Homo sapiens: one gene and its partners. The protein of the gene in region 4 purifies or fractionates together with the protein of the main gene of each other region. This does not show direct contact. Each region holds a gene or a part of one and is shown on either strand. Other genes may lie near its edges.

The links.
Region 1: the proteins of CYB5A (region 4) and KCNMB1 fractionate together in Homo sapiens (co-fractionation; one large-scale study listed by BioGRID). This does not show direct contact.
Region 2: the proteins of CYB5A (region 4) and LRPAP1 fractionate together in Homo sapiens (co-fractionation; one large-scale study listed by BioGRID). This does not show direct contact.
Region 3: the proteins of CYB5A (region 4) and LGALS9 purify together in Homo sapiens (co-immunoprecipitation; one large-scale study listed by IntAct). This does not show direct contact.

The regions. Positions count from the first base shown.
Region 1 is NC_000005.10:170,382,868-170,386,367, forward strand, and holds part of KCNMB1 (calcium-activated potassium channel subunit beta-1), read right to left. Parts: intron 2,605-3,500; 5' UTR 2,581-2,604; coding exon 2,447-2,580; intron 984-2,446; coding exon 812-983; intron 1-811. UniProt on the Homo sapiens protein: Regulatory subunit of the calcium activated potassium KCNMA1 (maxiK) channel. Modulates the calcium sensitivity and gating kinetics of KCNMA1, thereby contributing to KCNMA1 channel diversity.
Region 2 is NC_000004.12:3,525,923-3,529,422, forward strand, and holds part of LRPAP1 (alpha-2-macroglobulin receptor-associated protein precursor), read right to left. Parts: intron 1-3,500. UniProt on the Homo sapiens protein: Molecular chaperone for LDL receptor-related proteins that may regulate their ligand binding activity along the secretory pathway.
Region 3 is NC_000017.11:27,634,188-27,637,687, reverse strand, and holds part of LGALS9 (galectin-9), read right to left. Parts: intron 1-3,500. UniProt on the Homo sapiens protein: Binds galactosides. Has high affinity for the Forssman pentasaccharide. Ligand for HAVCR2/TIM3. Binding to HAVCR2 induces T-helper type 1 lymphocyte (Th1) death.
Region 4 is NC_000018.10:74,289,164-74,293,095, forward strand, and holds the start of CYB5A (cytochrome b5), read right to left. Parts: upstream 2,801-3,932; 5' UTR 2,713-2,800; coding exon 2,584-2,712; intron 1-2,583.

The sequences.
Region 1 (3,500 bases), on a different chromosome or scaffold from region 4:
AGTCCTACAGGCTTGACACAGGAGGTGCTCAATGGCTGTTGAATAAATAAATGAGAGGAGGAAAGAAGGAAACAAGGAAGGAAGGAAGGAAGGAAGGAAGGGAGGGAGAGAGGGAGGGAAGGAGGGAGGGGAAAAAAAAGAAAAGAAAGAAGGAGGGAAGAAAGGGAAAAAAGAAGGAAAGAAAGAAGGAAGGAAGAGAGACAGAATATGGGCCAACTGATCGCTTTAGGAAAGGATATGGTGGTGAGTTTTGTGTTTTGGAGGGGGAGGGTGGGATGTTGGGATGCAAGGATGGAAAAACCATCTAAATGTTTGTTTATGGAGGTTACTCCAGCCCTGAGTCCCTGGTTTCCTGGGGAGTCACCGGGATTCCACTTTGAGGATCTGGCCCTGGGCCTGGTCCCTCATTTGACTGAGGTTGTAGAATGAAAGTACTAACACTAATCACTGCTTTTGTTTGAGTGCCCACTATCCACTCAGCATCAAGCGTGGCACTTTATATACAGCGTCTCTGACTTGATAACAGCTCTTCAAGGTGCAGCATTAGCATTCCACTTTACAAGGGTGGAAACTGAGGAGGTGAGAGGCTAAGTGGCCTGCCTATGTTTACACAGCCAGTTAGCGGCAGATTCAAACCCAGGTCTGTGTGACTCCAACACAGAAGAGCTAGGGCTGGCTCAGTCTCATTCCAGCTGTGAGACCTGGTCAAGTGGGTTGATCTTTCTCAGCCTCGGGGACAGGGACAGTTAGGAACAGGCTCACACACCTGACAGGGATAAAGGGATGTGTCCCCATCCCTCCAGTTCAGTACCTGCTGGTTCTGGTCCCGAGTGTCCTCCGTGTGGTACAGCACAGCCCACCTGCCGGCAGCTGACACGTTGACCCACAGGCATGGGTACTGGGGCACCTTCTTGCCCTTCAGCTCCTCCTGGTCCCTGATGTTGGTCTCAATCAGGTGGCACTTGGATTCCTGGGTCCACACGCTGAGGAGACCACACACATGCACACATACACATCTCAGAACTGGGTGACACACAGAACACCCATTTGAACCCATTATCCCCTGGGAGCCTCTAGAGGGATCCAGGACTGGGATCCTCATCTTGTCTTCAGCATCCAGCAATAAAGGCACATGACCCCACAGTCCCCGGACACAGGGAGGAATTGTAGAAGCTGGATGGGGTCTTAGACATTATCTATATGACTGGTTCTCAACCTTGGCTACTCTTGCAACAACCTGGGGAGCTTCTAAAAAGATTCCCGTGTCCAAGCTACACCCCAGAGCAAGTGAATCAGAACTTCTTGGGTGGTTTGGCCCAGGCCCTGGGTGTTTTTTCAAAGCTCCCTGATGTGATTCTGACGAGCAGCCAAACCTGAGACTTTCTTATCCATATCGTCTTCATTTTGCAGAGGCAGAAGAGAAACTCAGAAAGGTCAAGTGACTTTGCTGAGACCTTGCAGGACCTGAAGCTAGGTCTGAGTGGGTTGGAGAGCTGTGTTCTTTCCCCTAAAAGGAGCAGATGTAGAAGGGGTTTGAGTTGAGCCAGGATGGGAAAGATGGTGGGGACAGTCTCTAGATGGTGCTTCACCAGATTAAGAGTCCAGCCTGGAATCGCTTCAGCGTTGTGAAGAGTGAGGCTGCAGCAGGCCCGGGAGAGGCTAACAGGTTCATCAACATATTAGTAAATCAGTTGTGCTTCAACTCCCAAGTATCCTGTGGGAGACCCATTGCCAGTCAGAAGGGGGCTGTCAGCTGCTGGAACGTGCCCAGAGCACAGGTCTGAGACTTATCCTAAGGACAGGCTGGGGGAACTGAGTGTCTTTGTTCCAAATAGAACACGAATTAGGAATTCACAGCTTTTCCTTAAAATCTCAAGTGGTTGATATGTCATGGAGCAAGGGCATGGACCATTCTCTGAGATTCCTGAGCAGAACTTCAGGGAAGCAGATGCTGGCTCAATGCAGACACATCAGAAAACCTCAAACATGAAATGTATGTTCAGTGAGGCAAGGAGCTCCCCGTCTCTTGAGGTATTCATCAGGAGGCTGGATGCCCACCTGACAGGGAGGCTTCAGAGGGGAGAGAATTATGCAGCTGAGCTGTAAACATCTGCAATTCTCTGATTCCTCCTGGGATCAAACTTGCACTGGAACCTTTGCTCTGATTCTTTGCTATTTCTTCTGAGAAGGGCATCATGTGTCTGTTACCACCACGTCCTAGATCATGTGTCTGTTACCACCAGGTCCTAGAATCTCAGACCAGTGGGGCTCAGTTCATCCTACCTTCCCTGCACTTGAACCCTAGAACCTAAGAATGAGCATCGTCTTGACCCTGCTGCCTTGAATGAGGGTCAAGGAGAGGGGTGAGTAGAAGGCCAGGGTTCCTTACAGATGCCAGACCCTTAGGAGAGGGTTGGGGGGTGGGCAGGCCGGGAGAGCTCAGTACCTTTTCTGGTAGAGGGGCAGCACAGTCGTGACCAGGATGTAGTAGGTGATGACGGCACACACCACCATGGTTACACCCAGGCAAAGGGCTCGTGTCTCTCCCCGCTTCTGGGCCATCACCAGCTTCTTCACCATATTCACTGGGGGCAGTGATCATTTCTAGGTCCACAGAAGCAAACAGAAGTGAGATCAGCCCAGTTCACAGGTGATCCACAGAAAGAGAGGACAGGTGAGAGGGGAAGGTACTCAACTATTAATATCACTCTTGTTTATATTTGGAGCTTTGCAACTTCCAGAAGTCTTGCTTTTTGGACCCCATGTAAGCCTTCCCTGTGCAATTGAGAGGCAATTGCAGATAAAAGACCTACGGCTCAGAGAGGTAAAGTGACTTGCCCTAGGTCACACAGTATGTAATAGGCTCAGTAATGGCCCCCCAAGATGTCTATGTTCTAGTCTCTGGAAGCTATCAATGTTACTTTATGTGGCAATGACTTTGCAGAAATGATTAAGATAAAGGCTCTTGAAGGCCAGGTGCGGTGGCTCATGCCTGAAATCCCAGCACTTTCGGAGACCGAGGTGGGCGGATCATGAGGTCAGGAGATCAAGACCATCCTGGCTAACATGGTGAAACCCCATCTCTACTAAAAAAAAAAAATACAAAAAATTAGCCGGGTGTGGTCGTGGGAGCCAGTAGTCCCAGCTACAGGGGAGGCTGAGGCAGGAGAATGGCATGAACCCAGGAGGCGGAGCTTGCAGTGAGCAGAGATGCGCCACTGCACTCCAGCCTGGGCAACAAAGCAAGACTCCGTCAAAAAAAAAAACAAAAAACAAAAAAAGATAAAGGCTCTTGAAATGGGGAGACAATATTGGATTATCCATGTAGCTCCTAAATGTAATCCCAAGGGTCCTAATAAGAGGGAAGTGAAGGGAGATTAAACAGATGAGAAAGCTAAGGTGATATGACCAGGGAGACAGCAATTAGAGTGATGTGACCACAGGCCAAGGAGTGCGTCAGAAGCTGGCGGGGGCAAGGAACAATGGCTCATCCCCCACGG
Region 2 (3,500 bases), on a different chromosome or scaffold from region 4:
TCAACTCTGGCCTCGGGGCTGGCCCGGCCGCTAAGAGGCGTGCGCTGGGGCAGGCTAGCCCTTCAGGGAAGCGAAGGCTCTTCCGTGCAGAGCAGAGTGGCCCAGCTGTGTGAACCAGAACGTGTCATGAGGTGGGACCAGGGTTCACGGAGACAGGGTGCTGTCCCTGGCTAACTGGGGAGGCTGCACCGCATGCCTGTAGTGACGCCAGCGCATTAAAGCCTCTGTGGAGTCCTGCAGCAAAGGAAGTGCTCGGCACTGTGCAGTGCAGATCCCCAAATCTCTCGGCTCTCAGGAGGGTCCCCTTCCCTGAGCACCTGCATTCTCACATTCCCCCGGGGCTGGTCCTCATGAGCTGCCCGTGGCTCTAGGAGGGAACCCCAGCTCCTGCCTCTGAGCTCCAGGTGCCCATCACCTAACGCCTGTCTCTGATCATGTGTGTTTAAATATGGAGTCTGTTTTCCCTTAGACGTTTGAAATATTAATCTTTTATCTATATTTCATTAGCTATTTTCTAACATAAATACAACACAAGCTAGTATCCAAAGTATGTGTGTTATATTTCAATAAAGTTTACGTAAAACAGTGAACATCCCCACGAAGCGTCAAGAGCCGGCTGCCTTCCCAGTGTCCCGCAGCCCGCGCCGCCTTGTGGCCCACACTGCCTTGCAGCCCGAGACCTCAGGAGGCCCAGCCCTCAGGTCCGCGCCGCGCAGGGGCACACGTTTCTTTCAAGACTCGCACGAAGCCAATTCTGTGTGTTTGGCACACCCCACACTCCGGAACCTCCTCGCCTCACTCTGCCTGTATCTAGACTGAGCCCATCCTGCTCCCTGCAGCTCAGTCTGTGTTGGGCCTGGGAGGAAGGAGACCCCTGACCACAGGCCCTGTCTCCAGCTGGGTGCTGGGGCTGTCAGCTCCGCCCTCTCTTCTCTCAGAAGCCCAGCCTGACTCTGTGGCTGCCCTAGCCACACAGGCCCCACCCTCCAGGAGTTTAAAATTTAGTTAGGGATGAATTCAGATTACTGAGCCAAGATCCCCAATGGTAAAAAGATAGCAAACGGTAGGCACAAAATGAATGGCAGGGCCTAGGGCAGAGGAAAGCTTCTAATTCTCTAGAAGGTTCTCTAACCCTTAGTGGGTGGTCCCAGGACAGTCTTTTGTCTGGGCCCTCCTGGTAGATGCTCTGCGCCCCCATCTCTGCAGGGGCTGCTTTCCAGGATTGTCCCAACCTGAAAACCCTTTCCCTGGCAGCCTTCGACACACCCCTACCTGTGTGCCTCTTCCCCAGCCAGCCCCATCCACCCAGCCAGCCCCATCCACCCAGCCCCTTCTCCCCAGAGCTCCACCCCGTGCCCCTCTGTGCCCTGGACACTTGCCTGCGGCGTCCACTGGAAGGCCCTAGGAGACCTGAGGTCTGATCTGAGCATTCCCAGCAGGAGGACCCAGGACAATGAGGCACCTGAGTGACGCTGAACTCTCAGGAGGGGCAGTCGGTGCCTCAGGAGGAGGGGGAGCCCACACCTGCCTATCTTGTTTGTGACCCAAACTCCTGGAGGAACAGGTCTGCTTCCATCTCTACTTCCCCGTGGCTGCTGCTACCCTGTAGGCGCCTTACTTACCGTGCTGCACTGCCCGGGAGGGTCTGAGATGCGAGGCCCACAGTGATGGTCTGAGCCAGAAGCAGCACCCTGGGGCAGGCAATTCAGGCCCATGCTCTCAAGTGTGTGCTGGCCTTGAGGGGCCCCGGGTCTGCCCTCTTTGGCTGCAGGGGAGAGGATGCAGGTGTCCCATGACTGCCCATGGGCTGCCTGCTGGAAAGCGGAGCTGAAGACCCAGGGCTGCTGAAGTCCTGGGCCCATCCTGGCAGGCTCACAGCCAGGCACCAACCCCTGTAACTTGCAGTCCTCACTGGCTTCCTGTCTGCCTCCCTAGGGTGCTGGGAGAATCAAGGGCAGGTGCTCTGTGGGCTGTAAAATCTGCAACCCACAGGGGAAAGTCATTTTCTCCCTCTGATTCCCCAACTCTCAGGCAACAGGGGGTCTAAATTTCACACCGCATGTCTCACAAAAGCCAGCTCCCTTTCCCCTGATGTGTGGCTGCCAGTGCTCAGCGCAGAAGGGGCCAGCCTGGCAGCACCACCACAAAAAGCAGCCCCAGCTCTGTGCAGAGGAAGACCAGCAGGTCACGTGCAGACCCCAGACCCCACGTCTGGATTCTTTCACCTCTCTCAAGTTAAATGTTAACGCATCAAGTTAGAAGTACCCTGTGGAAACCAACTGCAGAAAAGAACCTGTCAAACATGAAGCAGCGAGGCAAATCATCAACAACCAGGGTATACATGCAGGCAAGAAAGCCGGCTCAGCTGATCAAACGACGCCGGTCCTGTGTCCCCAGACACAAGCAGAGCCGACCGTGTCCTCCTGACCAGACCCAAGGGCCCAGCACTGCTTGGGACCTCAGCAGTGGCCCTTCCCCACACAGCACCACCCGCGTGCCAGCAGAGCTTTCTGGAACTTTCCAATAACCTGCTGCTGCTTCTCAACGCCCCAGGAAACCCAGGCCAGGGTCCACAGCTACACCACTGGTGTCAACCTGCACACACCGCACAGTTCAGGCTGGGCAGGTTCCAATGCCACCAGGACCGCCAATGGACCACCTCTTCAGAGGGCATGTGCCATCCTCCCAGCGCTCACCTGAGTGCCCGCGCCAGACTGCAAGGCACCCACCATGAGGAGCAGGCTGTGGCGGTGACCAAGGCTTCCTGGCACGCTGTACCTGTCTCACCACGGCAGGTGGCATGCACTGTCCCAGCCCAGCCACTGTGCCCCAGCTCCTTCCACCTGAGCTCCGTGGACAAGGGCACAGCCGTACCCGCCTTGAGCTGCTGTGAGGTCATGCATTGGCCTGGCGAGTCCTAGGTGCCCATGGAGGCCACTGGCTGGCCCATCCTCAGAGGCCCTTCTCAAGCCAGGGGGGACGCTTGAGAGCTGGGGTGGGGCTCTGAGGGCTCCTCTCTGCAGACCTCAGTTTCCACTCGTCAGACCTCTGAGAACAAGATGCTTCACACACTCTCATTGCAGTCACCATTCACGTCAGAACTAAGGACTGTCTGCGTGCGGTGCCTCCTGGGACTACACCTGTAATCCCAACACTTTAGGAGGCAGAGGCGGGAGGATCACTTGAGCCCAGGAGTTCGAGACCAGCCTGGCCAACATGGTGAAACCCCGTCTCTACTAAAAATATAAAAATTAGCCAGGCATGGTGGTGCATGCCTGTAATCCCAGCTACTCAGGAGGCTGAGGCACGAGAATCGCTTGAACCTGGGAGGCGGAGGTTGCAGTGAGCCGAGATCACGCCACTGCACCCCAGCCTCGGCGACAGAGTGAGACTCTGTCTCAAAAAAAACAAAAAAACAAAAAACCAAAAAAACTAAGGACCTATGGCCAAGGACTCCGAGCTCATGGCACCGTGCAGCCCAGGCCAAGAGGTACACGAGT
Region 3 (3,500 bases), on a different chromosome or scaffold from region 4:
TGCCCTCCTGGCCACCTTCAGCAGAGCGTCTTCCCAGATGCCTTCTGTAGCCGTGGGGCAGCCCCCTCCTCTATTTCTGTGCCCGGGCTCCCCATTCCTTCCCTCAGGCCCTCAGCAGCCCCGAGGCCTAGCGTGGTTTCCCCACCCATCCCAGGCCCCACGGGCAACCACTTTGTCAAATTCTCTCTTCTGGTGCTCTTTAAAGGAGTGATGGGCCATGGTGAGGCATGCATCGTTTTAGAGTCAGGCCAACTCCAGGTCTGAATCCTAGCTCTGCTGCTCATGACCTGAGTGACCTTGGGAAGCCTATTTCACCTCTCTGTGCCTCAGTTTCCTCATCTGTAAAATAGGAAGGTGTTTCACCTGCTGCATATGATTGATGATTTTGTGAGAAACAGCCTGTGGTAAAAGAGACTGGCACATAGGAGATGCTTCACCACTGTCACCCACCCCCCACCTTCATCTCTCTCAGCAAAATTCACAAACTGGTACTTCCAATTTTCAAAGTTTATTCCCAAAATGCTTCATATCCAATGTCGTTCTATAACCCGCATTAAAGCACAGTTCTATCTCCTGGCTGATTTTCACATTCTTCAAGTTTTTAATGTCTTCTCTAATATCTCCTTTAGGTCAATTTCCTACACAAATTAAATGCCTAAAGGAGCCAGGCAGGTGATGTGTATGGGTGAGATGGCCAGGTGGGGGAGTGGTGGGGACTGTGGCAAAGTAGATGTCACACCCCTCATCTGAAAAGTCAACATCTACTCCGTGCTAAGCAGTGATTGCCATCTGGGCCCAGTATTGGCAGAGCTTCCAAATTTTTAAGAGAAGACAGAAGTCCGGATTTTTTTTTTCTATAAAACTTTCTAATTTCTTGGGGGAAAATTTGTCAAAAAGGATTATGTAAAAGCTCCTGGCTGGGCACAGTGGCTCACATCTATAATCCCAGCACTTTGGGAGGCTGAGGCAGAAGGATCACTTGAGCCCAGGAGTTTGAGGCCAGCCTGAACAACGTAATGGGACCCCCATCTCTACAAAAAATAAAAAAAAAATAGCTAGGTGTGGTGGTGCACACCTTTAACTCTAGTTACTTGGGAGGCTGAGGTGGGAGGATCCCTTGAGCCTGGGAGGTGGAGGCTGCAGTGAGCCATGATCACACCACTGTACTCCAGCCTGGGCAACAAAGTGAAATCCTGTCTTGAAACCCCCCAAATTCCCATATTATAGAGATACAAAATGAAATATTTGAAATGGAATGGTATCTTTGGATTTGCTTCCACATATCTGAGGGTGGGAAGGAAGCAAGCGAGGGAGGGTATAGGATGAAGCAAGATAGGCCTGAGTTGATCATTGTTGGAGCAGAGTGATGGGTGTGTGTTGTTGATGGTACAATTCCTTCTGCATGTTTGAATTTCCTATAATAAAACGTTAAAAGAAACACTGTGCAGGCCAAACAGAAAACACCCACCAGCCAAATTCAGCCTACTTGCCACTGCTTTCTGGTCTGTATTGTTGAGTTGTGTGACCACACAGAACCCTGGGAAACCCATCCTAGCTCAGTGTACACACCTGGCACCGTGAGAGCCCCAGGAAATCTGGGATCTGATTCAGTTAGACTCTGCTCCCCATGGATTTGAGGGGGGTGTCTTTTGTTGCCCCTCAGGTCAGGTCTGAACTCTGCCATTAAGTACTTTAGTGACCTCAAGCAAATCACAGCTTCTCTGTGTCTCTGACTTCTCATTCTTGTCCCTGTCTACACCAGCAGTGTAGGGGAAGGAGAGTCAGCCTGATCCAATTATGGACCAGCACGGCCTAGGATTGGGAAGCCTGTTTTCCCTGAAACATGTCTGTGGAACATTTTTCTCCTTGCCTGTTTGTGGAAGCCTGTGATTCTCTCCAGAGCCTTTCATACTATCATGAGACACAACACTGAAAATACACACCCTCCTGGGAAGCATGCGGCCTCCACTTAAGTGTATTCACAGCACAGCATCTAGAATTGAAGGCAGAGCGTGATGGACATGGGCTGGCAAGTACACACAAGGCTTAATTAAGGAAGCCAGGAGGGAGAAAGAGGAAGTACAGATCATGGGGGCGGGACAGGACAGGCTAATCTCCAAGGCAACAAGTTCCCCAAAAAAGCTCTGTGAGGTTTCAAAATATCTTAAATAGTGCCCCCAAAATTCGGAAAAACAAGATTATTTATTTATTTATTTATTTATTTATTTATTTATTTATTTATTTAGAGATGGGTTCTCACTCTGTTGCCCAGGCTGGAGTTCAGTGAGGGCTGTGATCATGGTTCACTGCAGCCTCCACCCCCTGGCTCAAGTAATCCTCCCGCCTCAACCTCCCGAATAGCTGGGACAAAATAGGTGCAGGCCACCATGTCCCACTAATCTTACAATATTTTTTGTAAAGATGGGGTCTCTATGTGTTGCCTGGGCTAGCTCAAGTGATCCTTCCGGCTCGGCCTCCCAAAGGGCCAAGATTTCAGGCATGAACCATCATGCCTGGCCTGAAAAATGAGTTTTTAAATTGAATATCATCCTACAAACAAGGTTATTCATTGCAGCATTATAACACAAAGGATTATAAAGCAAAGCATTGGAAAGAGCTTAAAAGTCCTCTGACAGGAAAAAGGTGAAATAAATTAGGGTATTTCCATTTAATAGGTTCTGTGTAGCCTTAAAAAGAAAAGAAAAAGAGGAAGACAGAACTCTGAGCACTGATATGGAATGATGCCATTTGTATAAAAAGTGGGTGGGGGAAGTCTATGGACTTGCATTTATTTATTTATAGATAAAATATATCTGGAAGGATTTATAAGAAACTTATAACACTGGTTACCAGTGGGCCACCCCCCAGAAACATCCACATTCGAATCCCCGGAAACTGTGAATATGTTGTAGAAGGGACTTTGTAGATGTGATTAAATTAGTAATTTTGGCATGGGGAGATTGTCCTGATTTTAAAGGTGGTCCCAATGTGATCACAAGGATCCTATAAAAGGAAGGCAGGAGGATCAGTGTCAGAGGTAGGAGATGTGACAACAGAAGCACAGAAGCAAGAAGAAGCTGGTTTGCGTTTTTGGGGGGTTTTTGTTTGTTTTCGTTTTTTGTTTTTTGTTTTTTTTGAGACAGGATCTCATTCTGTCAGCCAGGCTGGAGTGTGTTGACGCGATCTCAGCTCACTGTAGCCTCCACTTCCTCAGGCTCACGTGACCCTCCCACCTCCGCCTCCCAGGTAGCTAGGACTACAGGCATGCACCACCACACCTGGCTAATGTTTGTCTATTTTTTGTAGAGACGTGGTCTCACTTTGTGGCCCAGGCTGGTCTCAAACTCCTGGATTAAGGAGATCCTCCTGCCTCGGCTTCTCAAAGTGCTGGGATTATAGGCATGAGCCACTGGGCCCAGCCAAAGCTGCTGGTTTTAAAGATGGCAGGAGGGGTCATAAGCCAAGGCCTGCAGGCAGCCTCTAGAAGATGGAAAAGGAAA
Region 4 (3,932 bases):
TCTCCACAAAAACTTTGAGTAAGAAAAAATAAAGAAATTTGTTTTCAGCTAATTTACCCACTCAAGAGCTTGCTCTCATCTCTCAGTTTTTCTCGGAAAATTTTTTGCACAATCCCTCCTTTCCTGACTCACAGGAATGAAATGTGAAAGTAAATAGTTTTGAGTACATTTTAACAATAATCTTCACTTCCCTATTATCGTCTCTGAAAATCTACCCCTAAAGTCATGCACAGTAACCTTAGTAATTCTCAAGTTGGAGAGATTATGTGCCCTAGGGGACCTCTGGCAATATCTGGAGACATTTTGGGTTGCTATAAATAGGGGAGGTAGGGCTGGGAGCAGTGGCTCACGCCTGTAATCCCAGCACTTTGGGAGGCTAAGGTGGGTGGATCACCTGAGATCAGCAGTTCGAGACCAACTTGGCCAACATGTTGAAACCCTGTCTCTATTAAAAATACAAAAATTAGCTGGGCGTGATGGTGTGCGCCTGTAATCCCAGCTACTTGGGAGGCTGAGGCAGGAGAATTGGTTGAACCCAGGAGGCAGAGGTTGCAGTGAGTCGAGATCACACCATTGCACTCCAGCCTGGGCCACAAGAGCAAAACTCTGTCTCAAAAAAAAAAAAAAAAAAAAATAGGGGAGGTGGTGGTACCGGTCATCTAGTGGGTAGAACTCAGGGAGGTGGCTCAATATCCTACAATGCCCAGGACAGACGCCACAACAAAGATCGGCTGGCCCAAAATGTCAACAGTGCCAGGGTTGAAAAAACTCGCTTTAGGAGAAGACAAGAAAAGAAGAAAATGCTTCATAATATAAAATATCCTAATATTCTCTTATGCTACTTCTTCTATAAGCACAAATAGACAAAGCACACACTGTATCTTAAAATTCCACATTTAGAGTTAATGAGAATTGATGTTATATGACAAGATCTGCAGCCGGGCAGGAGGGAGAGGACAGGTCAGCTCTGATTTCCCAACATAAACCCCTCCTTACTAAATGGTAACATGACTTTATCTTCGGGCACTGCTCCAGAGTGAAATACCTTACCAATAAACATCAACTCCAGCCTTATTATTTAATTTTATTTATTTATTTAGAGACAGAGTCTCACTCTGTCCCCCAGGCTGGAGCAAAGTGGTGCGATTTCGGCTCACTGCAACCTCTGCCTCCCAGGTTTAAGGGATTCTCCTGTCTCAGCCTCCCGAGTAGCTGGGACTACAGGCGTGCCCCGCCAGGCCTGGCTAATTTTGGTATTTTGGTTAGAGATGGGGTTTCGCCATGTTGGTCAAGCTGGTCTCGAACTCCTAGACTCAAGTGATCCACCCGCCTCAGCCTCCCAAAGTGCTGGGATTACATGTGTGAGCCACCGTGCTTGGCCCAGCCTCATTTTTTAAAACAGGCCTTTTGATTTTAACATTTTCTGCAAAAACAAAGTCCTCTGATATAAACTGTGATCCAGCTCAGACCAGGCATCTATTTTTGTCCCCTGCTCCCCGACTATGTAAAAAATTCCCATCACTAAACCTTCTCATTATTGGGAGGGGGCGTGAGCATGCGTTAAGATTTATGATTGAGACTCCCCCAAAAGTAGTAAAACACTTCCAGAGGATCTAAGACAATCACCAAAAGCGCCCCTTAGCGTGTGCGGCAAAAATTATAACCGAATGCAAAGAATCTTATCAAAGGAATGTCTTCAAGTTAACCAACGTTTCCTATTACACCTTCCAAAGCTGTTAGGGGCGAGTCCCACGCAGAACGTCCGCTGCTCTGCCTGGCCTCTGTGTTCTTGCTCCAGCCACACACCGCGGTCTCAGGAGTCAAGCACGGCACCTGGCTGCCAAGGCGTGACTGGAAAAGGTTAATTAACACCGAGCCTCTTCCAGGTGAACGCGAACGCGAGTGGGTGTGGACCGCAAGGTCGGCCAGTGGCTGCCGCGGGAAGCGCAGGCCCGGACCACACCCGACCTCCGCACTTGGGGTCCCCTCCGGCGGGATCCGCAGCTCTCGGGGTGGGTGGTCTCCAGCCGGCCACTGCGGGAATGCCGCCGGTCCTGGAAGGACACCCTTCTATTCAAACTCAAGGGAGAAAGGGATCATTTAAATCCCCCGCATGGCTGCGCGCTATCCCCGGAAGGCTGCTCCAGCACCACCTAGCGAGGATGCCGCCGCGCAGGGCGCTCCCAGGTGTGCACGCGCAGGTGTACGGATTCGGGGAGCGCTCCCAGGTGTACACGCGCAGGTGTGCGGACTCAGGGAGCGCTCCCCAGGTGTGCACGCGCAGGTGTGCGGACTCGAGGAGAGCGCCCAGGTGTACACTAGCAGGTGTGCGGACTCGGGGAGCGCTCCCAGGTGTGAGCGCGCAGGTGTGCGGACTTGGGGCGGTGGGGGGCGCCCAGGCTTGCACGCGCAGGTGTGCGGACTCGGAAGCGCGCCCAGGCGTACACGCGCAGGTGAGCGAACTCGGGGGGCGCGCCTAGGCGTAGGTATGCGGACTCCGGGCCGCGAAAGACAGGTCATGCCAGTGAACCCCCAAACCCGGCCCACGCTCCCTGCGCCCCAAGCCGCTCATCCCCAACTCACCTCTTCCAGAAATTTGGTCAAATCGTACACCTTGTGGTGCAGGATCAGCCAGGTGCTCTTGCTGTGGTTGTGCTTCTGAATCTCCTCTAGGGTGTAGTACTTCACGGCCTCGTCCGACTGCTCTGCCATCTCGGTTCGCCGCGAGCCAGGCCCAGCACACACAGCCCCGTCGGGTGGAGCAGAGCGCGCGACTCAGCCAGCTCCACCCGGGACATTCCCCGCGCCGGGAACCCCACTGGGGGCTGGGCGGCCGGCTCAGGGGCGGGGCGCAGTAGAAGGGCCTCCGACGGTTGGCCATCATCCTTGTCACTCAAAAGTCCCCGCCTTCGGTCGACCCCCTCCGCCTGCCCAAGCGTGGTCCCGCCCAGTATGCGGGTGTTAATTGGCTGCCGGAGGTGCCCTTCACAATCTCCCGGCTGCCGCAGCGCGCGGAGAGCGTGACAGGACTCCACGGAGTCTGCGCGGAAGGGCGGGACTAACTGTGGCGAGGGCTGAGGTGGGAGGTCGGGGGCGTCCCCGCGGGTTAAGCGTGCGAGAGAGCGAGGTGCACCAGCGGGCATGGATGGCCTGTGCAGAGTCCAGTCTTGTGAGGGCGGCGAACTAGGCAGCGAATCGCGGGAGTTTCCTATTGGCAGCAGTCCGAGTCCCAGACGTTAATTTGTAACAAAAGTAGCGATGGCCAAGCCCATAAAGGGGGCATCTCGGAAAGCCGTTCGCATGCACGGAAGAGATGAAAGCCCCGTGCGCGCTAGAAAACGGTTTCGCAACTCACTTCGGGAAGCAAATGCGCTGCCCCCCAAAACATAAAGTTGGCGAACTGTGCCTGACCCCGCTGGGGTTTTGGAATGCCTCGTCCTCACAGGAAAAAAATCCAGGGAAATCATCTTTTCCTTAAAAAGCAAAAGTGTCCAAATTATTTCTGTGACTGAAGTAGTTTGTCTGCGGTTGGCCAGTGACATGGCAAGGCCTTGTTTGTGCATTTAAGGTAAATCAGATTCTCTTCTAGGAGTCTGGAAGAGAACTTCCCCAAAGGGCACCCTCTTTCCCTTCTGACACAGAGGAAATACCACATATAAAGAGCTACAAATGTTTGAAGGAGAAAAAAAATAAAGAAAAATTCCAGCATGTTAAAATTTGATATTTTATGTAGGCCCTTTTCAGCAATGGTAGTTAATTCCAAAAAGAACCACACGAGAGGTTTCACATGTGGGGTCATCCATCCTTCCAGGGATGCAGAAGGTTCCTACACATACTAGGTGTCTGATGAATGTGAGCTCCCTTCCCCCTGCTTACCTCCTCCATAGGAATGCATGCCTATCCAGAAAAACACAAAACACACGCATGTCAGG